Regions from separate parts of the Homo sapiens genome. Here regions 2 and 3 are each linked to region 1. Evidence: fine-mapped expression QTL. A gene starts in region 1. Each other region holds a variant in brackets. All regions are shown on one strand. Distances are between the middles of the regions.

Evidence for each region. PIP is the estimated chance that this variant, and not a neighbour inherited with it, causes the effect. A credible set is the group of variants that fine-mapping cannot tell apart.
Region 2: its variant is the best candidate, but not a certain one, in a credible set for the expression of SLPI in whole blood (TOPMed, PIP 0.50).
Region 3: its variant is the best candidate, but not a certain one, in a credible set for the expression of SLPI in whole blood (INTERVAL, PIP 0.70).

What each region holds. Positions count from the first base shown.
Region 1 is chr20:45,250,385-45,258,083 of GRCh38, forward strand. SLPI (secretory leukocyte peptidase inhibitor) reads right to left here and starts at 4,180. Exons shown (of 4, transcript NM_003064.4): 1 at 4,075-4,180; 2 at 3,191-3,349; 3 at 2,618-2,767; 4 at 1,855-2,035. The coding sequence starts at 4,159. The coding sequence ends at 2,031. The region is part of intron 2 of LOC105372630 (a long non-coding RNA gene); the gene reads left to right.
Region 2 is chr20:45,175,565-45,183,263 of GRCh38, forward strand. It overlaps LINC02597 (long intergenic non-protein coding RNA 2597), which reads left to right and starts at 4,423. Exons shown (of 4, transcript NR_187568.1): 1 at 4,423-4,570. PI3 (peptidase inhibitor 3) reads left to right here. Exons shown (of 3, transcript NM_002638.4): 2 at 297-572; 3 at 806-980. The coding sequence ends at 571. RefSeq lists an enhancer at 1-127. The variant C/T (reference allele first, on the strand shown) is at 4,292.
Region 3 is chr20:45,199,408-45,207,106 of GRCh38, forward strand. SEMG1 (semenogelin 1) reads left to right here and starts at 7,626. Exons shown (of 3, transcript NM_003007.5): 1 at 7,626-7,699. The coding sequence starts at 7,647. The variant C/A (reference allele first, on the strand shown) is at 3,773.

The sequences.
Region 1 (7,699 bases):
CAAAACTAAATAAGGGCACGTGGACACACACATGCACACACACACCAAAAAACTACAGGCCAATATTCCTTATGAACATAGATACAAAAATCCTCAATAAAATACTAGCAAACTGAACCCAACAAGACATTAAAAAGATAATACACTATAATCAAGTAGGATTTATTCCAGGGATGAAGAATGTGTTTCAACATATATAAATCATTTATGAATGTTTTAAATAAATGTGATACATCACATCAACAGAATGAAGGACAAAAAGTCCATATGATTATCTCAATAGATGCAGAAAAATCATTTGGTAAAATTCAATATCCCTTCATGATAAGGACTCTCAATAAAGTAGGTATAGAAGAAAAGTATCTCAACCCAATAAAGGCCATATAGACAAACCCACAGCTAACATCATACTGAACTGGAACAAGAAAAGCATGCCAACTCTCACTGCTCTTATTCAACTTAATATTAGAAGTCATAGAGCAATTAGGAAAGAGAAAGAAATAAAAGCCTTTCAAATTGGAAAAGAAGTCTAATTATCCCTCTTTGCAGATAACATAATTATATCTACAGAAGAACCTTTAGACTCTGCAAATAAACTCTTAGAACCAATCAATGAATTCAGTAAATATGCAGGATACAGCATCAACATACAAAAATCAGTAGCATTTCTATACAGCCCTACAGGGCTTAGTGGGTGTTCTCCCTGTGTGCAGAGACAAGAGATTGTAAAAGACACAAGACCAAGAGATAAAGAGAAAGCAGCTGGGCCCAGGGGACCACTACCATCAAGATGCAGAGACTGGTAGTGGTGGCTGTGTCTTTAGCTTTGCAAGCTTTTTAGTTTGAGGTAGTCCCACTTGTCTATTTTTGCTTTTTTTGCCTGTCAGCCCTGCTTTCTTTTCCCTGTCACAGGTGTCACTCCCCAGGACACTCCCCAGCAAACCCCCTGTTCACAAACATTTGCCTCTGGGACTGTTTTCCAGAAAACCTGACCTAAGGAAGATTATAAAAGTTTATCATTATCCAAAAATTGGAGAAGAAGAGTAGAAAAAAAATAGTACTGTCACTTTTTCAGCATGTGTTCTGTATGTAACCCAGGAGTTTATCTCATTTCAACGCTAGGTCTCCTCCCCCTGCAAGGTGCTACTTGGGGCACACTCCTAGTAGCGTATTTGCCCGAGCCTAGGTTCCTCAGTCTGGAATAACCCTTGCTGGAGGTGAGAAAAGTATGTAGCAGAATGGTCCAGTGAGGTTTGGGGCATTCCAAGTCTTTCAAAATAATCGAGAGTGGGCACTGACGTAACATGGTTAGTCTTTTTGAGGACTCCATTTGCTGTGAGTTGCAGATAATCTTAATTTTTCTGAGTGTCCAGAGAGTGTTGGTTGGATTAGACAACAGACAGACCTACAACATATCAAGTGTGAAAACCAATATATATATCGTAACACATACAGAGGTGAACACAGGAATCTGCCCCAACAGTTCTGTATGGCTTTAGATGAAAACCCCCTGGATTAAAATAGCTTAACTGTTGGCAGGATCTCTTATGCATAAACTCGTCTCAGGAAAGTTTTTCACCTGCAGTTGACAATCCTGCCAGAGGCAGTAAAATTGAGGTTTCTGATTCTTCATGTTATTGTACATCCCTAATCCCATTGAAATTTAGGAGATAAAATCACTTGTCCCAAATCACAGAGTCAGCACTTTCACACTCATGATATAAATTCAAGTTCCCCCAGTCCCTAAGCCTCTTCCTCCCACTACGTATTCATAGGAAGGAGGCCTCATATCTAGATCTTCCCTCACAGCTTCCCACCCCACTCATACCCCCAACGAATCACAGAAGCAGGATGTGCAAAGAGAAATAGGCTCGTTTATTTATTCATTGATCAACTGGCACTTCTTGAAAGCCTGCTGTGTGCCAAGCCTTTCCCCAAAGGAGGATATCAGTGGTGGAGCCAAGTCTCAGGGTGGAAAGGACCTGGACCACACAGAGCAGGACTCCAGAGCCTCCTCCATATGGCAGGAATCAAGCTGTGAGAGAAAATCAGATAAGAGCTTCAGCATAGAAACCAGCCAAATCATATCCACATCCTTCCTCCTGCCCAAGGATCCTTCTGAGATAGAGAAAATAGCAAGATAGCGCTATAGTTGAGAGAGACTTAGTGTCAGGAGACAAGTCTCATTTTCACCGTAAAACTCTAAACTCAAAGCATTGAACTAGATAATCCTCAAACTCCACTGATCCTTTGTGATTTCACCTCAGAAAACATGATGGAAACAACCTGAATAATAAATTCTTAGTGCACATAGTGCTTTGCAGAGCACTTTCAATCTCATTATGTACATTTTACCGATAAAGAAACTGAGACTCAGAAAGACACTTGCCCAGGACCCCCACCCAGAGACACTAGAATAGAATCAAAGCCACAGGCGATCCTATGGAAATCCTGGCCCTGAGACCTGGAGAACAGTTCTCTTGAAGGACAAGGGAGTCAGACAGAGGCTGTGCTTGGAGTAGGGTTCAGGAGTCCCCCTGCCCATATGCCTGGGCCTCCAGAGGGTTGAGGCTGAGAGGGCTGGAGGGAGCTCAGTGTGCCCTCATCCCCTGCTTACCTTTCACAGGGGAAACGCAGGATTTCCCACACATGCCCATGCAACACTTCAAGTCACGCTTGCACTGGCCATCCATCTCACAGAAATTGGGGGGGTTAAGCATCAAACATTGGCCATAAGTCACTGGGCACTTCCCAGGCTTCCTCCTTGCTGGGTGAGAGTGAGGCTACCGGTCAGAGGCCTTGTACTTTATACAACCCCTCCCATCCCCACTTTTTAGAGTGAGCCCCTGCTCCAGCTTCAGCAGGGGGGATCATCCCCTCCCCACCTCTATCACCACCACCTTCTCCCTAAGGCGGCCCCCAAACATAGCACCTGGCTCTCCTAGAACTTCAGGCCCCCCATTGATGCAGGTGGCCAGCCACCCAGTGCTGACTAGGTGGGAGGCTTCCAACTACCTGGCTATCTAAATGCCCGCTGCTTCACCAGCTGCTGGCTACCTTCCTGCTTAGGGCAGTGTGACTCACTGACGGATTGACAAGGAGGCCTGGCAGGACCCATCACCCAGTTCCATCCCTCTAATGCTGTGTCCCCAGGCTCACTCCTCTCTACCCAGTTCCCCGACCTGCTTACTTGGGTTTGGGGTGTCAACAGGATCCAGGCATTTGATGCCACAAGTGTCAGGACAACATCTCTTCTTCCCTGGACACTGCCAGTCACTCTGGCACTCAGGTTTCTTGTATCTAAGGCACTGGGCAGATTTCTTAGGAGGACAGACTCCAGCTTTGAAGGCTTTTGAAGAGAAAGTCAAGAGGTCAGGAGGAGGCTGGGTACTGAGGACCCATCATGCCTCCTGAACAAAGCACCACTTTTGAGGGGGAGAGACCCTTACCTCAGTAGCTGTCCACAAAGCCCAAAGGGTCATGCCTGCCTGATCTCCAGGTGTATTGATGGGCTTGATTAAATTAGACAAATGGACAGGGGACGTTTCACACCCAAGAAAAGGGCAGCAGGCTTCTAGTCAAGACCTCCCACCCAAGAGCAAAACAAGGCTACACAAAGGCAGAGAGGAAGGCTGGGAGTGATGGAGATGGAGAGAGGTAAACAAAGATAAATAGAACCAGTGTGAGAGAAGTTGAGAGCTAAAGCCCAAGGCAGAAGCACAGAGACAAAATAGCAGAAGCAAAGACACAAGGAAGCAGAGTCAGAAACTAATGATTTGAGAGTCGCAGACAGGTGAAGAAGAAGGCGGAGTATGAGAGAGAGAGAGAGAGAGAGAGAGAGAGAGAGAGAGTGGGACCTGGGCTGACAGCATGGCTGCATAGAGGAAGCATTTCCAGAAGCTCAAACTGTCACACAAACCTTGGAGCTCAGCCAGACATGTATTCCACCCTCAGGGAGGTCTCCCGAAACTAAGCTGAGGGATCAGAGCCTACAGAAGGGGACACACCCACACCACAAGGAGACCCCACCTCTGACCCTGCAGCCCAGATTAGACCAGAGTGACTCCAACTTACACTTTCCAGAGCCTTCCACAGCCCAAGGTGCCAGAGTTCCCAGGGCAAGCAGCACCAGGAAGGGGAAGAGGCCGCTGGACTTCATGGTGAAGGCAGGAGTGACTCTGATGGCCAATGCCAAACCTCACTATTTATTCTTTCACCAGTGGGTGTGGCCCCACCAGAATTCTTTCGGCCTCTCCCAGCTACTATTGCATAAGCAGGAAACGTAGCCAGAGACCAGAAATCCTGACACCAAGGAGATTGTTTATCTTTCCTATGCCAGGTAAGGCTATGAGGCCAACACAGCAACTATCAGAAAAGAAAGGGAAGAGATTGGCCTGGGAAGTTGGTTGATTAAAGAGGCCATCTCAGTGTCCATCTGAGCCCTAAACATCACAAGATCCCAGGCCATTAGCCTTATAGGTGGAGAGAGGGAAGAAGTGGTCAATTGCAAAGGTGCTACCCGGACCTGGAACTAAAACCAGACACAGACTCCCTGCTGAGACTTTGTGCAATACATTCTATTCTCACATTGCTAATTCTGATTCTCACATTACTGGACTCTCAGGCATTGTGAAACTCTGCTGATTACTCAATGCAGTTTCTTTCTCAAAAGTTCAGCTCGTTCAACCAACTGATACTTAGTTCCCTGAAATATTTACACCGTTATATCCCCAGTGCCTGTTCTGTGCCTGACACAGGAAAAGCACTCACAAATGAAAGCTGAAGAAGAGCTCCGCTCTCCACAAATCTCTCTGGAGCTCAGTTGTCTCAGCTGTGAAATGAAATGATACTAACAAGTCAGCCCTTCTCAGAGGGTTATGAAATTAAGGGCATGAAGGGACTCTGAATGAAAAGAACAAATGAATAGTATCCCTTCCCACTAAAGAGAATTGAAATGAATCTGAGATAAAGGGGGAAAGCAGCTCATCAGTCACTGTAATCTACATTTAGCTGTGAGATAATTTGAGATCTTAGAGGATTGCTTCCTAAAATTCCCCAAAATCCCTTACAGATCTCACATGACAGCAAAAAATTAAACCCATTCTATTTGCTACCCAGTCTGCATAGGTTGCTTCTAATTATAAAGAGAGCGACCATTATCTCTAAAATTCAGCCCATAGCTGAGTGTAGGGTCGCACACTTGCTGTCTCAGCTGCCCAGGAGGCTGAGGTGTATGGATTCCTTGAGAGTAGGAGTTTGAGACCAGCCCTGGCCACATATTGAGACCCCATCTCTACAAAAAAATGTAAAAAATTAGCCAGGCATGATGACGTACGTATGCCTGTAGTCCCAGCTACTTGGGAGGCTGAGCCAGGAGGATCGCTTTAGCCCAGGAGTTTGAGGCTGCAGTGAGCCATGATTGTGCCACTGCATTCCAGCTTGGGGGACAGAGCGATACCCTGTCTTAAAAAAATAAAATAAAATAAAATTCAACCAAAGCTCATCTAGCTACAAACTCCAAGCTCTTGACTCATTATCTTCATGCTTGGAATTCTCCCATTCATTCCTAAGGTGAAGGTTTGTGGAACTTTCCACAGACATGAAAGACCCACTCATTATCAAGTAGCGATGGCCCCACATGAAGTATTTAAGTATTCCACAACCAAACAGGCAACTGGCAGCAGATCCCTTTATACAAAAGTCACTCCATGGTTTGAATTTTGGTGGATCAGAAGACTTGGACATAATCAATCATCAGTCAAATTTTGGTGGAAAAAGAAAAGGAAGAAAATTAATATGCACAAGGTAACTACTATGAGCCAGGTGCATTCACTCTTAGTTGGAGTACTTAGTAGGGTAGGTAAGAGAGAAATGGAGGCTATGATTTCCACCAATGGGTAATGACACTCTCAGGTCAAGATTTTTGTTCTCACTTCCACCACCCAGGGGATAATTTGATTTCTCTCACAGAGTTCCTGTTCTCTCTCTCTCTCTCTCTCTCTGTTTGTTCCTATTTTCCTCAGTGCCACACTCAAGAAATTATCTGGAGTTTTCTAAATATTTATTTCTTAAAGAATGAAAAGGGGCTGGGCACGGTGGCTTATGCCTGTAATCCTAGCACTTTGGGAAACCAAGGTGGGCGGATCACTTGAGGTCAGGAGTTCAAGAGCAGCCTGGCCAACATGGTGAAACCCTATCTCCACTAAAAATACAAAAATTAGCCAGGCAGTGTGGCACACACCTGTAATCCCAGCTACTCAGGAGGCTGAGGCAGGAGAATCACTTGAACCCTGGAGGTAGAGGTTGCAGTGAGCTGAGATTGTACCATTGCATTCTAGCCTAGGCAACAAACTGAGACTCCGTCTCAAAAAAAAAAAAAATTAAAAGGAAAATGCTACAGCTTAAGTTTTTTTTAAATCTGTGATTGACTGATTGCTCAATCTGTGATTGACTGATTAGAGCCAGCTCCTTTCTCATCAGAAAAGAGCCCTGTGCCCAATTAGCAATGTCTTCCATGGGTGTCATAAGAAGATAATAGTATATAATCATTATTATCTTTGACATAATTGGTTCTAAATGTTTACATCATAGAATGTTAAGACTAAAAAGAGGACTTCAAGGGTTTTCTAGATCAGCAAACTACAGTCCTTGGACCAAATCCACCTAGTTACCTGTTTTCATAAAGTTTTATTGGCACATAGCCACACATCCATTAATTTATGTATTGTCTAAGGCTATCTTTCCACTACAATGGCAACAGGGACCTAAAATATTTACTGCACAGCCTAAAATACTTATCGTCTGGTCCTTTACAGAAAATGCTAACCCCTAGACCAAACCCACAGCTTGCATAAAAGAGACTGAATCCCTTAGAAGAAGATCCAGGCCCAAAGCTGCATAGCGGATTAACGACACACACAAGATTGAGCTTTTCTAAAACAGGTTACTCACATGCTGATCCCCAGAACCTGTCTGGTGGAGGACACTTCCACTCCTAACCAAATCTTAACCTGAGACTGACTCATTCAATCTATCTCAAGGCTGGGAGTGGTGGCTCACTCCTGTGATCCCAGAACTTTGGGAGACTGAGGTGGGTGGATCACTTGAGGTCAGGAGTTTGAGACCAGCCTGGCCAACATGGTGAAATCCCATCTCTACTAAAAATACAAAAATCAGCCGGGCATGGTGGTGTGTGCCTGTAATACTCAGGAGGCTGAAGCAGGAGAATCACTTCAACCTGGGAGGCAGAGTTGCAGTTAGCTGAGGTCATGCCACTGGGCTACAAGAGTGACACTCTGTCTCAAAAAAAAAAATCTATTTCACACACCCTTTATTGCCTTCTACCTAAATCCTATAGATTCCTTCATTCATTTATACAAACCATTCACACAAAAGTTGTTTAACATTTCTTACCACATGTCAGGTATTGCACTAGGCCTAGGGCTACAGAAAAGAGCACGCCCACGGAGTCGACACCACATGGTTGTTAAGAACCTGAACTTCAAAGTCAGACTTACAGGTTGGAAGCAAATCACTGAACCTCTTTGAACTTCAGCTACCTCCACTGAAAAATGAGAGTGTTGCTGCCTCTGGAGTCGTACAGTTGTTGTGAGGAGTATTTGGAAAGCACTCAGCAAACTGTCTGGTCCCCTCAGTACATTACACATTGTTTTTATTACCGGCGTGTCCCTGCACACAT
Region 2 (7,699 bases), 75 kb before region 1:
CAATGTGTCCTCTTCACTGCTGGGTGTCACCCCAGTCTGACCACTGCTCCTGAGAGACTTGGAGTGGAGGAAGGGGGAAGAAACAAATACTCAAGGGAACTCTGGTCCAGTAGACCACCCCAAAAAAGGAAGAGCCTTCCAAGAGTGTAGCTCCCAGAGGTGTACCTTCCCTACTCAGGCCATGGTTTGAGGATGCTGCAGTAAGCAGTGGATGGACCCAGACCCAGAGGAAAGACATGGCAGCTGAAGCAGAGGCTTACTGGGTATAAATGTGGGCTCGTTTCTTCTTTTAACAGTTCCTGTTAAAGGTCAAGACACTGTCAAAGGCCGTGTTCCATTCAATGGACAAGATCCCGTTAAAGGACAAGTTTCAGTTAAAGGTCAAGATAAAGTCAAAGCGCAAGAGCCAGTCAAAGGTCCAGTCTCCACTAAGCCTGGCTCCTGCCCCATTATCTTGATCCGGTGCGCCATGTTGAATCCCCCTAACCGCTGCTTGAAAGATACTGACTGCCCAGGAATCAAGAAGTGCTGTGAAGGCTCTTGCGGGATGGCCTGTTTCGTTCCCCAGTGAGGTGAGCACTAGCTGGAGAACGAGGAGACCCCTGAAGACACAAAAGAAGGCTGAGCGGTGGGGAAGCATCCCAGGTTGGTGGGAGGGAGGTTGTGGGAGGTGACAGAAAGACTGGGAGACTGAGGGGTCTGAGAGGCTATAACCAGAGTGCCTAGAAGGATGATCTGTCTTCCTCACTGCCTCTGAGTGCTTTGATGTGCTGACTCTCACCTCTGATACTCTTCTCTTCCACAGAGGGAGCCGGTCCTTGCTGCACCTGTGCCGTCCCCAGAGCTACAGGCCCCATCTGGTCCTAAGTCCCTGCTGCCCTTCCCCTTCCCACACTGTCCATTCTTCCTCCCATTCAGGATGCCCACGGCTGGAGCTGCCTCTCTCATCCACTTTCCAATAAAGAGTTCCTTCTGCTCCACTTGTTTCTGGTTCCTATGACTTCTGGGCTCCTGGATGCTTTGGGGAAATGGATGTAGAATTGGGACTTCTTCTCTCCAGTGAAGAGGGGAAACGGTCCCATGGTGAAAGAGAGCAGGGCGGGGGGAGGAAACAGGAGGCACATTGCTAGGGCTTCATATTACAAATCCAATAATCAGCCCCAGTGCTGCCAGCTCCTTTTCACCAGGAAATGGAAATATGGAAATCTTGCCTTTGGCCAAGGACCAGGAAAAACACAAAACACAAAAAATAAATAAACATTACATAAACCATAAGCAGGTCTTTTTTTTCCAATCCACCATCAGTCCTGACCTGGCTACTGTCGGCCTTACCAGTGTGACCAGCCAACCCTTATGGCTGCAACTACAGCTCCCCACTTCCTTCTCATTAATGTTTCCCAGGAATCTATATCTTTTCAACACCACATAGAAAGGATGATGTTACAGATGCTGCGAAACTCCTGCTCTTTAGAATTTCACTGGTTTATGCCTGAGATTCCTCCATGAAGTAGCATTCCTTTAGGTTAAGCAATATTCTCTTCCAGATTTCTGTTTTAAGATGTGAATGAGGAGGCAAGATACACTAAGTCCTTCATACTATGGTGTCAGAGGTTTGGGTGAATAGCATTCTCTGGAGACATACATGTTGGGGGCAGGGCAGACTTGAGTAGTGGAGAAAGGGGCAGGAATATGAGCAACCTCATGGCTCTCCTGTTGACCCACTCGTCCCACTGCGATTGCACAAGGAAACTCTCAGAGAAGGCCACAGCCCCCAGGAGGGGAGCAGCCTGGGTGAAGGGGAATAAGCACAGGCTTGACAGTCAGGTGATCTCAGCACTGGCTTTGCCTCCCCACGTATTGGGTGACCTCTGGCAAATGTATGTCCCCCTTCCAGGCCTCAGAGGTCTATTTCAGTTGAGGGGGTAAGGTATAATTATTCTGCAAAGGAAGGTCTAATCCTGCCACTCTGGGATATGAAACAGCTCTTCTTTGTGTATTGGGTTCTTGCTCTGAGATGACATGGGGAGCAGAGGCTTGGGGTGAGACAATGTGGATCCCTGCACCACTTTGCCCCATCCACGAGCATCTGAGCCATGATTTTTCCCTATTGTTCAGAGGCTAGTCCGAACAACTGTAGGGCTTTGACACTAGGGTGTCTTGGAGTACAGGTGACAGCAGTACCCAAACTTCTGGCTTGACAAATACAAAATACATCATTGGAGGAAATAATGGTTTCTGTTTTTTAATATTTACTCTATTTCCTATACCTAGTAGATTACATGTATTGTCACTTATTTTTCATAAGTCCCTTTCAGATGGCCATTATACATATTTTATTTTCTAATTTTGTAAAAAGATTGAAGCTAAGAGAGATTAAGTAACCATTAAAAGCCACAAGGTTAGTAAGTGATAGTAAATGATATTTTTATTATATGCTAGCAACAATCAGTTAGACATGCTGCATTTTCTATTATTAATATCAACAAAATCACACCATTGCTATAAATAAACAAGAGAGAGGCAGAGCTTTAGAAGAGAAATCTATGTAACTTTTCAGAGGCATATAAAAATGCTTGAATATACACATACTCACAATACATGAATATGCACATATCACAATACATGAAGACTATGTGGTGAAGATGTCACTATTTACTCAATATTTAATATTTATTTAATTTATCCCTAAGGTGTATTATACCCAAAATCCATTTTTAATATGGTGTGGTTATGGAGGTTAAGGGAACTTGAAACCATACTTAAGTTTATGGGGAAGCATAAATTCTTGTGAATAGGCGTAGATGTTTACAAATGAAGATTAACCCTAGGGCTCTGGAACCTCCTAGACTTAAAAAAAAGTTTTGCAAAGTAACAATAATCAATATGTTGTTTTTATTAGAAGAATAGTCAGGTTGAGAAATCAATAGAAAACAAAAGAAAACCCAGAATCAGGCCTCATTATATCTAATTCAGGTAAAGATCAATGTCAAGTTCCAAAACAATGAAGAAAACTTGAATTTTTTAAGAAACAAGATTCAGACGGTAGGTTCACTATTTGCAAAAACAAAAGAACTAACTCTGGTCTGAATTCAGGCAAAGATTAAGCCACTGAGAGAGAAAAATTGAAAGGTTCCAAAAAGACACTTTCTTTTCGCTCAGGAAGCAGGCCAGGATGACAGTCCATGCCTAGCAAGGTAGCTGAGCAACTCAAGATCTCACAGAGACCAGTGGTTTCTTCCATCCAGGATTTGCTGTGGAACAGAGACTGTAATTCCTTTCATGTTCAGTCAGGCAGGGACACATCTCCCAAGAAGACCCTGCCATTTGGAATAGTCCTCTGACTGCAGTAGGAGAGGGTGGAGCTGATACTGGGCCCCTCAGGATCTGCTGTGGCACAGTGGCTGGAGATCCCGATCTCATTGGCTTAGAAGGAGTGCACATCTTCCAGCAAGTTCCTGCGGAGACGTAATAGTTTCCTGATTCCAGCAGAAGGAGCTGAAGCTGGGAATGGCCCCACCTTGGGATCTGCTGTGGGATGGAGGCTGGAGAGTCCATCTTGTTGGCCAAGACAAGTACATATCTCCCTGCAAGTCTCAGCACCGAAAGGATAGTTCAATTACAGCAGGAAGTGTCAGAGCTGAGACTGGATCCCATCTCGACCTGCTGTGCAACAGAGGTTGGCAAGCCTGTCAGGGAGGCTTAGGATCTTAGGCTATGAGATATGTGTGAGTCTCCCTCTGGGTTGTTGTGTGAGCAGCTCTGAGCTGGGACCTCAGCTGATGGGGGCTGGAGCTGAATCACAAGGCAACTTTCAGATTCACTGCCCAGTCAGTGAGCAGAAGGGCCTTTCTGCCAAAGCCCTAGTGTATGTGATTCATTCTGGACCCCACAGCAGATGGGTTTGATTGCAGGCTCAAGGCCAAATGTAACCAAACCCCTGAATGGGCCATTTCTGGGATTGAACTCTGGAGCCAGCTCAGTGGATCAGCCACGTGGGTGTTGGTCTGCACTCTCAATATGACCCTCCAAGGTCTTGGGCTCCACCAGAGTTTCACAAACTTCCCCCTGAATCCAGATCCAGAGGCTCCCACAGAGAGACTTTGGACTGTGGATGAGTGTAGAATTCTTGTCATTCTGGTGGGACATGAGCAGGTGCCTTCTATTTCACCATCTTGGTTATGTCATTCCTTCCTCAGCAGTTTTTTTGGTCGATTTTGCAAAGCTTTAAGTTTTACAGTGGGGCTGGAAATAGCAGGAGAGTGTGAGTTCCAGCCCTGGGATTTGTTGTTTG[C/T]TCCCTTTTCACTGACAGGTATTTTGTATTTTTGGCATTCTTTGTTTTCAAGTTATGTTGAGGATGTGGTTTTGTTTAGAAATTTCTTGGTGGTGGTGTTATTTTATACCTCTTGGGGTGGAGATTGTGGAAGTTACTTATTCTTCCTCTTCTGCCTTCTATTGTCTTCAACTACCCCAAAAAAATCTCCTGGAAACTACTCTCTGAAAGAAGTTGGAGAAAAATTATTAATGCACTTGAAGAAGATCAAGAAAAAAGAAAGCGTGAGTAATGTTTTGGGTGAGTTTGAAAGAAGCTATTTTTCTTGCTTCCATTTCATTGCTTCCCTCTGCAATAATTCCGGGTGTGATCCATGCATTGGATGTGTCCTCTAGACTCAAACCAGATTTCAAAAGCAGATATGGGGTACCAGTTCTCCTAACTTCCCAAGCAATGAGAGGTGCTGTTACTAGGGAAGACAGCCTTGTCCAAGGAGTGCTGGAACCAGACAAGGGCTTGGAGACCCAAGGCCTCAAAGAGAGATACAAGGCCCCAACATGTTTCACTTTGCTGTCCCTGCATGGCCTCCCTAGAGATATTGACACCTGATTAACAAATCTTGAATGGCATAAAGGACAACAAAATGACTGTGGGGAGATGTCATTTCCCTCCTTACTTTATCACGATTGCACAGACCCCTGAAGGGAGAAATGCATTTCCTAATTTCACTCAGTAAGTCAAACCCAGAAAAGAACTGGTTCTCTGATTCCCAGACATGGGTTCGTTGTACAATTGTCTGAAAATAGCTGACTTGATCAAATTGTTTCAAATGTAATTTCTATAATTCCAATTGATGCCTCAGTATTTGTCTCCTAATACTTGGAGTCTTTCATTGTTTTCCAATTGTTTAGAATTTCAAAGGAAATTATTAATTAATAGAAATAAGGAATTCACAGCATGATGAGGGCCCAATTTGGGAGATGTGACTTTGGACCAAGTATCTTTTTTTTTTTTTTTGCGACATCTAAGCTTGGTCCTGCCCACCTAGGAGGCTGTGTAACTGTGCAGAGAAGGGAGTCTTTCTACCCACGTTAACTTATCCAGCTTCAAGTCCCTTCCAGGTACCCTCTGTCCTCCGATTCCCTTCTGGAATTCAGGAACAGGTAGTACTATGTCACCTCCCAGACCTAAGTCTTACTCCTAACAGACCTGGATAAGTTCCCTGTTCTCACTAACCTCAGTAACACCATCTGGAAAAGAGAAGGCCTAAGCACGTGGAGTTTTTGAGCCCCTCTAATAGAGCCTCCAAACTACCTAGAGCAAGCTTGTCCAACTTGTGGCCTGCAGGCTGCATGTGGCCCAGGATGGCTTTGATTATGGCCCAACACAAATTCATAAATGAGTTTCTTTGTGATTTTTTTTAGCTCATCAGCTATCGTTAGTGTTAGTGTATTTTATGTGTGGCCAAAGATAATTCTTCCAATGTGGGCCAGGGAGGCCAAAAGATTGGACACCCCAGGCCAGGCGCAGTGGCTCACGCCTGTAATCCCAGCACTTTGGGAGGCCGAGGCGGGCCGATCATGAGGTCAGGAGATCGAGACCATCCTGGCTAACACAGTGAAACCCCGTCTCTACTAAAAATACAAAAAATTAGCCGGGCGTGGTGGCGGGCACCTGTAGTCCCAGCTGCTTGGGAGGCTGAGGCAGGAGAATGGCGTGAACCCAGGAGGCGGAGTTTGCAGTGAGCCAAGATTGCACCACTGCACTCCTGCCTGGGCGACAGAGCAAGACTCCAGCTCAAAGAAAAAAAAAAAAAAAAAGATTGGACACCCCTGACTGAGAGCTTTCTAAGGAGAAATTTGACTATGTGGGCAACTTTTGGGAGGAAGTCAGAAGAAGGGGAAAAATGACTGGATTTGGGGTCCACCTGGCACATTTAAGTCCTCTAAAATGCCATTTGAGTGAGTCACAGTGGCTTAATGAGCTTAGCAGACATCAAGTTTTCAATTACAAGAGAAGACATATATTCTCTGCTCTCCTCCCTTTGTTTCCACCATCTGGATCCAATAATCCAAAACCCAGCAGGGTTCTGGCTTCTTGTCTGAGGCCAGCAGCCCTCTGCTTGTCCCTGAGGCTTTATGGTGATTCCCAAGACGGAACGATAGAGCAGCCACTGGTCAGCCTCAGGAAAAATCAAGCCACTTCTCATGCCCTGTCTAGAACTGAGACAGAGAGACTCTCCTCCAACCAGTCATGTGGGTCAGCCATCTCAAGGGTAAGCAGGTGTCAGCCCTAGGAGGTAAAAACAGGCACCTAGTGTTTATCAGCTCTTAGCATGTCCCCTGATTACACAGCCTTCCATCCAATTTAGAACAGGAAGTACCCCTTGACATTATCACGAACCACCTTCTCACATTAAGGAGGAGAAAACTGAGTCCCAGAGAGGAGAATGAAGGTCTTTCAGTCACAGAGTGCTCCGTAGCCTTGCTGGGCCTAGAACTAAGATGTAGCGCTAACTTCCTAATAAGGTCACTTTGATGGATCCACTTGATCTGGGCCATGAAAGGTGGTCCATTGGATTGAGCCTGACAGCCTAGAGTGATGGAACAGCATAAGGTAATGTGTGAAAGCAAAAACAAAGAGAAGACACTGCAGATGGAAGCAATCTGGCTGAGATAATTTTCTACAACTCTGTGACAAGTCAGCTATTCTCAGTGGAATTTTCAGCACCCCCTTATTCTCTCATTTTAATTATCTTAACTTTCTGTATTTTTTATTCTTATCTCACACGTTTCAATAAAATAGCTTTATAGTATCTTTTAGCCTCTTTCATTGTGGAAAGGGCTGTAGGAGTTTTAGAGACAATCTTTCTACCTCATTCATTTTTACGTTTGTTAGAACTGAATTCCAGAGATAGGAAAGAATTTGCCTAGTTTTTAGCAAATCCACTGTGATACCAAAAAAAAAAAAAAAGCCATGGAAGGCCAGGTGTGGTGGCTCATGCCTGTAATCCCAGCACTTTGGGAGGCCAAGGTGGACGGATTACTTGAGGTCGGGAGTTTGAGACCATCCTGGCCAACATGGTGAAACCCCGTCTCTACTAAAAATACAAAAATTAGCCAGGCATGGTTGCAGGCGCCTGTAATCCCAACTACTCAGGAGGTTGAGGCAGGAGAATTGCTTGAACCAGGGAGGCGGAGGTTGCAGTGAGCTGAGGTCGCGCCACCGTATTCCAGCCTGGTGACAGAGCGAGACTCCATCTCAAAAAGAAAAAAAAAATGCAAAGGAAACATGATGAATTCTGAACTTGTATTTAGTTTTCAGTGAGATGGTAGAGGTTTCATATTGATTCAGATGTTAACCTTTCCCCAGTGACTGCTTTTTAATACCGTTTGCTTCCTTTCTTATTGGATTGTCCAGATTATTTCA
Region 3 (7,699 bases), 51 kb before region 1:
GGTCATGCCCACTAAGGGTAGCTTGTGGGACTGTTTCTCAGGCCCTTATTTAAAAGATTGGGTCACTGGGCAAGCCATGGATGTATCTGTGGAGGGCAAGGGTGCTGCAGGGCTGTTTCTCAGGTATTGAGGGAGGACCATATCAGCTGCTTGGAGCTCAGGGGCCCCTCCTGCTTAGTAGAGGGTATGTGGCAGTTTGGCTAGTTCAAGGACAGGCTTACTTGGTACGACTGGACAATTATTCCCCAGCTGAAATGCAGTGGCATGAGTTGGTTTCCCTGCTGTGCCAGAATAGAGTCACAGCCAATCCTGGGCTCGAACTCTGCACAGCTGGGGTTGTGGAGTTCAGCCACTATGTGACCTTGGCGTAATGAAGATGGAGCCCAAATGCTGGAGAAGTGTGGTTGTCAGAAGTTCCAGAGGAGGCTACACTCCAGAGGGGGCTCTGTTGTCAAGATGGGACTGTGCTGCGGCAGCTTGGCCCAAGTGGGTGAGTGGGATGTGGGTAGTGCACACCTTGTGCCCCTAATGCAGGGCAATACAGCTGTGTGAATTCCCAGCAGCTCTCCAAACTGGGCTCAGGACTTTAAAGGACTGTGGGATTCTCCTCTTGTAAGGATAGTACATGTTTGCAGTCACAAGGTGACTGGTGGGGACCTTCTCCTTACATTTTCCCTGCAACAGGAAGACCCTCTTGGCTCCAGACAGATCTGATCCGAGTGGAGGGAGACAGGACTGCAAAAACCAGATGCCTCTGCACTGCCCTCCTGAACTTCTAATCACCACGGTTCATCTCCACTCCCCCATGCACTCCAGCACTCTCCCTTTGACACTCCAACCAAATCTTAGCTGTTTGTTACCTTGACCCTTTATTCTGGTGGGGATGAGCACCATGGGTCTCTAGTTATCCATCTTGCTGACTGCCAAATTTTCTATTTCTTCATAGTTAAATCTTGATAGCTTACAGGGGTCTAGGAATTTATCAGTTTCTTCTAGGTTATCTAATTGTTAGTATATAGTTGTTCATGAGTCTCTAATGATCTTTGCATTTCTGTGGTATCAGTTGTAATGTCTCCTTTTTCATCTCTGATTTTATTTAATTGAGTCTTCTTTTTTTTGTTTTACTTAGTCTAGCTAAAAGTTTGGTGATTTTGTTTGTCATTTCCAAAAACCAACTCTTTGTTTTATTGATCTTTTGTATTGTGTTTGTAGTCTCCATTTTTATTATTTCTACTATATCCGTATGATTTCTTTCCTTCTAGTATTATTACAATTAGTTTTCTCTTTTCTTTTTCTTATTACTTGTGGTGCCACATTAGGTTGTTTATTTGAGATTTTTTTTCTTTTTTGTGTAGGCATTTATTGCTGTAACTTTCTGTCTTAGAACTATTTTTACTGTATCTCATAGCCTTTGATACATTGTGTTTCTACTTTAGCTTGTCTCGAAGAAATTTTTATTTCCTTTTTAATTTCTTCTTTGACCAGTTGGTTGTTCAGGAGCATGTAGTTTAATTTCCATGTATTTGTGTATTTTCTGAAGTTCCTTCTTTTATTAATTTCTAGTTTGATAGTAATGTGGTCAGAAAAGATACTTGATATGGTTTCAATCTTCATAAAAATGTTAAGACTTGTTTTGTGGCCTAACATATAATAATCTATTTTGGAGAATATTTCTTGTGCAGTTGAGAAGAACATGTGTTCTGGAGTTGTTTAATAAACTTTTCTGTATACGCCCTTAAAGTCTATTTAGTCTAGAGTGCAGCTTATATCTCACAGGTCTTTGCAGATTTTCTGTCTGGGTGATCTGTCCATTGCTATTACAGGGTTTTGAAATCCTCTAATGATATAGTTTGGATATCCGTCCCCTCCAAATCTCATGTTAAAATGTGACCATCAGTGTTGGAAGTGCAGCCTAGTGTGAGGTGTTTGGGTTATAGGGCTAGATCCCTCATGAATGGCCTGGTGCTATCCCCGCAGTAATGAGTGAGTTCTCACTCTCTTAGTTCACATGAAGACTGCTTGTTTAAAAGACCCTGGCATCTTTCTTTCTCCCTCTCTCACCATGTGATACACTGGCTCCCAATCCCTTCCATCACGATTAAATACTTTATGTGGCATCACCAGAAACTGAGCAGATGCTGGCACCAGGCATCTTAGCCTGCAGAACTTTGAGCCAAACAAACCTCTTTTCTGTATACATTCTCTAGTCTCAGGTATTGTTTTATAGTAATGCTAAATGCCCTAAAACACCTACTATTATTGTATGCAGAGATCTCTCTTCAGAATATTTGCTTTATATCTTTAGGTGCTTGGATTTGGGGTGCATACGTACTTACGATTTCTGTATTATCTTGCTGAATTGACCTCTTTAGCATTATATAATGATCTTCTTTATGTCTTTTTACATTTTTGACTTAAAGTCTATTTGATCTGATATAAGTGTTGCTACTCCTGCTCTCTTTTGGTTTCCACTTGTGTGGAATGTTTTTTCCATCCATTATCGTTCAGTCTATGTGTGTAATTACCAGTATGGTTGCCTCTTTTAGGAAGCCTATTGATGTATCTTATTTTTTTCCCATTCATCCACTCTAGGCATTTAATTAGTGAATTTATTTACCTTCAAGATAATTATTCATAGGTAAGGACTTACTACTGCCACTTTTTCATTGTTTTCTAGTTGCTTTGGTGATTCTTTCTTTCTTTCTTTCTTTCTCTCTTATTGCCTTCCACTATGATTAAGTTAGTTTCTCTAGTAGTATATTTTGATACTTATTTTTTATTTTTAGGGCGTCTATTAAAAATGTTGTCTTTGTGGCTAACATGAGGCCTTTAAAAAAAATCCTGTAGCTATCACAAGTGATTTTAACCTGATAATAATTTGTTTGATTACAAAACATAAAACTACACCTTACCACCACTTCCCTCCCCGCATTTTGATATTTTCATGTCACAATTAACAGCTTTTATGTGCCATATACATTAACAATTTATTGTAGTTATTATTAATTTCAAGTTTTATCTTTTAGCCTTCATACTAAAGATAGAAGTGATTTATACATCACCATTATAGTATCACAGTATTCTGAATTTTGACTGTGTAATTAATTTTATTAGTGAGTTCTACACTTTTAGATTATTTTGTATTACTCATTAGCATCCTTTTCTTTCACCTTGAAGAACTCCTTTAGCATTTCTTGTAAAATAGGTCTGATGGTGACATACTTCCTCACCTTTGTATGTCTAGGAAAGTTTTCATTTCTCTGTCATTTCTGAAGAACAGCTTTGCTGAGTATAGTATGCTTGGATGGTTTTCTTTTTTTTCATTACTTTGATAATATTATTCCACTCTCCTCTGATCTTTAATGTTCCCTTTGAGAAATATGATTTGATTGCAGCACTATTCATACTAGCAAAAACATGGAATCGACTTAGGTGCCCATCAATGGTGGATTGGATAAAGAAAATATGGTGTATATACACCATGGAATACTACACAGTCATAAAAAATAAATAAAATCATGCATTTGCAGCAACATGGATGCAGTGGGAGGCCATTATCCTAAGTAGATTAATGCAGGAAGAGAAAACTATATACCACATGTTCTCAGTTATAGAGGGGAGCTAAATGTCAGATACTCATGAACATAAAGATGGAAATAATACACACTGAAGACTACTAGAGGAGAGAAGGAGGGAGGGAAGGGGACAAGGGTTGAAAAACTAAATGTTGGGTATTATAGTCAGTATCAGAATGACAGGAAAATTCATACCC[C/A]GAGCTTCAGCATCATGCAATATACCCAGGTAACAAATTTGCACACTTGGCCCCTGAATGTAAAATAACAGTTGAAAAAGAAAAAAAAGGTCTGATGTGAAGTGTATTGGAACTGTTTTGCATTTTATTTGCTTCTTTTCTTTTGCTGCTTCAGTATCATTTATTTGTCTTTGATCTTTCACAGTTTAATTATTATATGTCTAGTCTTTTTTGAATTGAATGTGATTGGTGACTGTTGACCATCCTGCACTTTGACTACATATATATATATATAATAGACACATACATATATATATAATATATATGTATATATGTATATGTATATATATGGGTGTATATATGTGTGTGTGTGTGTGTGTGTATATATATATATATATATATATATATATATATATATATGAACTCCTCAGATTTGGAAAGTTTTCTGTTATTACTTATTTAATAAGCTTTCTTTACTTTTCCATTTATCTTTCTCTAACTTCTCTTGAATGCCAGTAAATTGTCCCTTTGCTCACTTAATGCTATTCCATACATCTCATAAGTTTCCTTCATTCTATTCTTTTTTCTTTTTTCCTTTTCTGAGTATATATTGTCAAATAACCTGTATTCAAGCTCACAGATTATTCCTTCTGCTTGATCATTTCTGGTGTTAATGCACTCTATTGCACTTTTCACACTTTTCATTTTATTCATTGCATTCTTCAGCTCCTATATTAACATTAGATATTAAATGTTATCATTTTTACCCTTTGTTACATCTCTCTTTCTGGTCACTTATTGTTTTCATCATTTCATTTAATTATTTATCTGTATTTTATTAAAGTTCTTTGAGCTTCCTTAGAACAGCCATTTTAAATTCTCTTTCAGGCAGGTCATACATCTCCATGTCTTTGGGGCCAATCAATGGTATCTTATTTTGTTCATTTGGTACCTTATTTTGTTAATTTGGTGTCATCAGTTTTCCCCGATTGTTCTTGATCCTTGTGATTGTGCATTGATGTCTGCACATTGAAGAAGTAGGTACTTATTGAATTGCAGGTAGGTACTTGAATGCAGATATTGAATTTAAGGTAGGTACTTACTCCAGTTTGGCTTTGTCTGAGAATGTCCCTCAACTCTGTCCGGAAATTCTAGGCAGATCATCTGTTCTAGGTTTGTAAGCCTGTGACTGTTTCAGTCATTGCAGCACAAGGAGATGTCATAAACCCAGGACCACCATGGCCAGTTCTGCACCAGGCTGTAACCCATGGCTGCAGAGGCTGGCACAATGATGGAATGCATTCCCAACTCCTCCTCACTGATACCTGCCTACGTATGTTGGTTATTCATAATCCAAGGCTGCTGTAGTTGGCTGCCAGTGGTACAGGTAAGAACGCAAGTCTATCTCACAGGAACTATGTGTTCCTCTCTGCTGCTGGGGCAGGTCTTGCTGCTTAGGCCACAGGTATTCAAGCAGGGTCACTATGGGTGTCCTCCCAGTGCTGAATTTTACTATTATAGACTAGTATTTTGTTCCGTGAAAAAGTCCAAGCCTTACTTCATTCCCTTCCCCCCAAAAGAAAGTAGCTCTCTCTGCACTGTGCTGCCTGTGATTGGGTTAGGGGTGATACAGGAAACAAAATTGTCTTTCGTGCCCTCTTCAATGTGTATTTTTAATTATTATACTATAATCAGGTTCTGTAATATCTCATCTGGCCTGTTTAGCTTTTGAGAAACTATTATCATATGTGGATAATTATTAAATTCGACGTTTTGGAGGGTATAATCTCTGGGGAGTCCTACTCTACCAGGTTTTTCTGCCCATTCCCCAAAAATAACTATATTTGAATCTTTTCTAAGTTGTAAAGTGATTTCCCATAGAATTGAGCAAAATACATTTAAGTCCTCCTGTTTTCTTCTTTTCCTATGAGTATAAAACTTTCAGATTTTTGTGCCAATTTAGTGCACTTTAATATTTTTGCATTTTTTATTTGTCCAACAGGACAAATCATTTGATCACTTAATCTTTTCCCCCATCATAATTCCATATCTAAGATGTATGCATCACCATACCATTTTTATGCTTTCCAAATCACTGATTTCTGATTTCAACTTTATCAATACATTCCTTTATCATTTGGAAATGTTTTTTTCCACATTTCATTGAATTCAATTCTAATATGAATATAGTAATCACATGTTTTGCTTGGATTGCATTTTCCTGGTTTGTTTTTGCAAATATTGTGCCCTTTTGTTTTATCTGCATCTTTTGGACACTAGATGAGATGAAAGTTTTGTTCTTGATCCATAAGTAAGATTAATATTTCAGACTCTATTTTGTATCAGTAAGTTTGGAACAGAACAGTTTCTGGTATTTTCTTAAGGGAAGTGTGAGGAAGATTACAGTGGTTAGCAGACACAGTAATCAATTTTAGTTCAGAACAATATCACCTTACTCTGTTGGGGTTTCTGCAATAAGGAACTACTTACTGCCTTTGAGGCAAACAGATAAATTTGGTAAGATCTCAGAGTGGCTCATAGAGAAACCATGCAGCTCACATGATTTATGTTTGATAGCATAGCACTTTTTTTCTGTGGTTGGCCTTTCTCTTTTCCCCTTCCATAGAGCATTGCCTACAGGAAGGTTAAGATTCTAAGACAGAATAATTGAAAATAAGTTTTCAAGCTATCCTTTCCCCAGCACTACCCTCCAAGGTGTTCTGAATGTACACAGGGACACTGTTGGGATGCTTTCTTCTTCTCCTGTGGTCTGCTCATAACGAAGTCTTTATGACTCAAAGTAAAGAAAGTTTCTTCAGACTTTTCAGGATGTCATCACAATTGGAAAAATCTATGCTTCTACCAAAGGTGGGAATTTTAGCTTCATGTCCACTCACAATACATTATTCAATTCATTGATGGTGGCAAATATTTCTCACAGCCTGTTTGGGGATTCAGCTGTTTACTACTGAAGTAGAAACTTCTCTTAATTAAAAAGAAAATTCTGCTGTTTAGGTAGATTTCATGAAAAGAACCCAATCTAGAAACCAGCATTTTTACTTTTTTTCCAACAGTTGTTCCTATCACCATGAAAGCATATTAAAATTCTTTCATCCTTTGAAAACACATCTGGAACTTACCTCACCCTCCAGATACAGCCTCAGCTCTCACTCCACCATGAATTCAGACTTCCTGAGAAGGTTGCAGCTGGTCTCCATCCTTCAACTGACAACCCAATGCAATTGTATTCATCTCTCATTAAAGTTACTAGCAACAACTAAGAAAAACTTTGGATACATGTCAGTCTTTATTGTGTTGAACTTGACAGACATATTTGACATTGGAGTGCCCCATTTACTTGTTTAAAATTTCTTTCTTTGGATTCCATAACGTTTCATTATCTTCTATATCATTGGACTTCTATGATTGCTCATTCTTAGGTAAAATAGAACGTGTCTCAAGATCATTTTTAAAACAAAAGGAAGTATGGAGTTCTATCTAAAATAGAGTATTTAAATTATTGCATCATGAAGGGAAACTCACATTTAGAATATAAAGGCATTCTCAGAAACCAATTGCTTTTGTAGCCTGAAGCCAGTCTCTTTCCTACTTTTGTCTATAATTCTGTAAAATTAAAGTGATCTGGCATGATGATCTAAAAGGACTGATAAAAATTTGCTGGGGCTGCCAGAAGAAAGAAAATGCCTTTGACATTATGTTGCTGGGGACATTGACTTTGTCCCACACTCAGCAGGGGTGAGGAAGTTGGCATTTACTGATAAGCTAAGAAAAGTCAGTGCCTTTTGTAATTTAAGCTCCACCCATGGCACACTCACTCAAGGAAGATATAAATGACAAGGTCGGCTCAGCTCTCAGACAAGGTTTTCCAAGCAAGATGAAGCCCAACATCATCTTTGTACTTTCCCTGCTCCTCATCTTGGAGAAGCA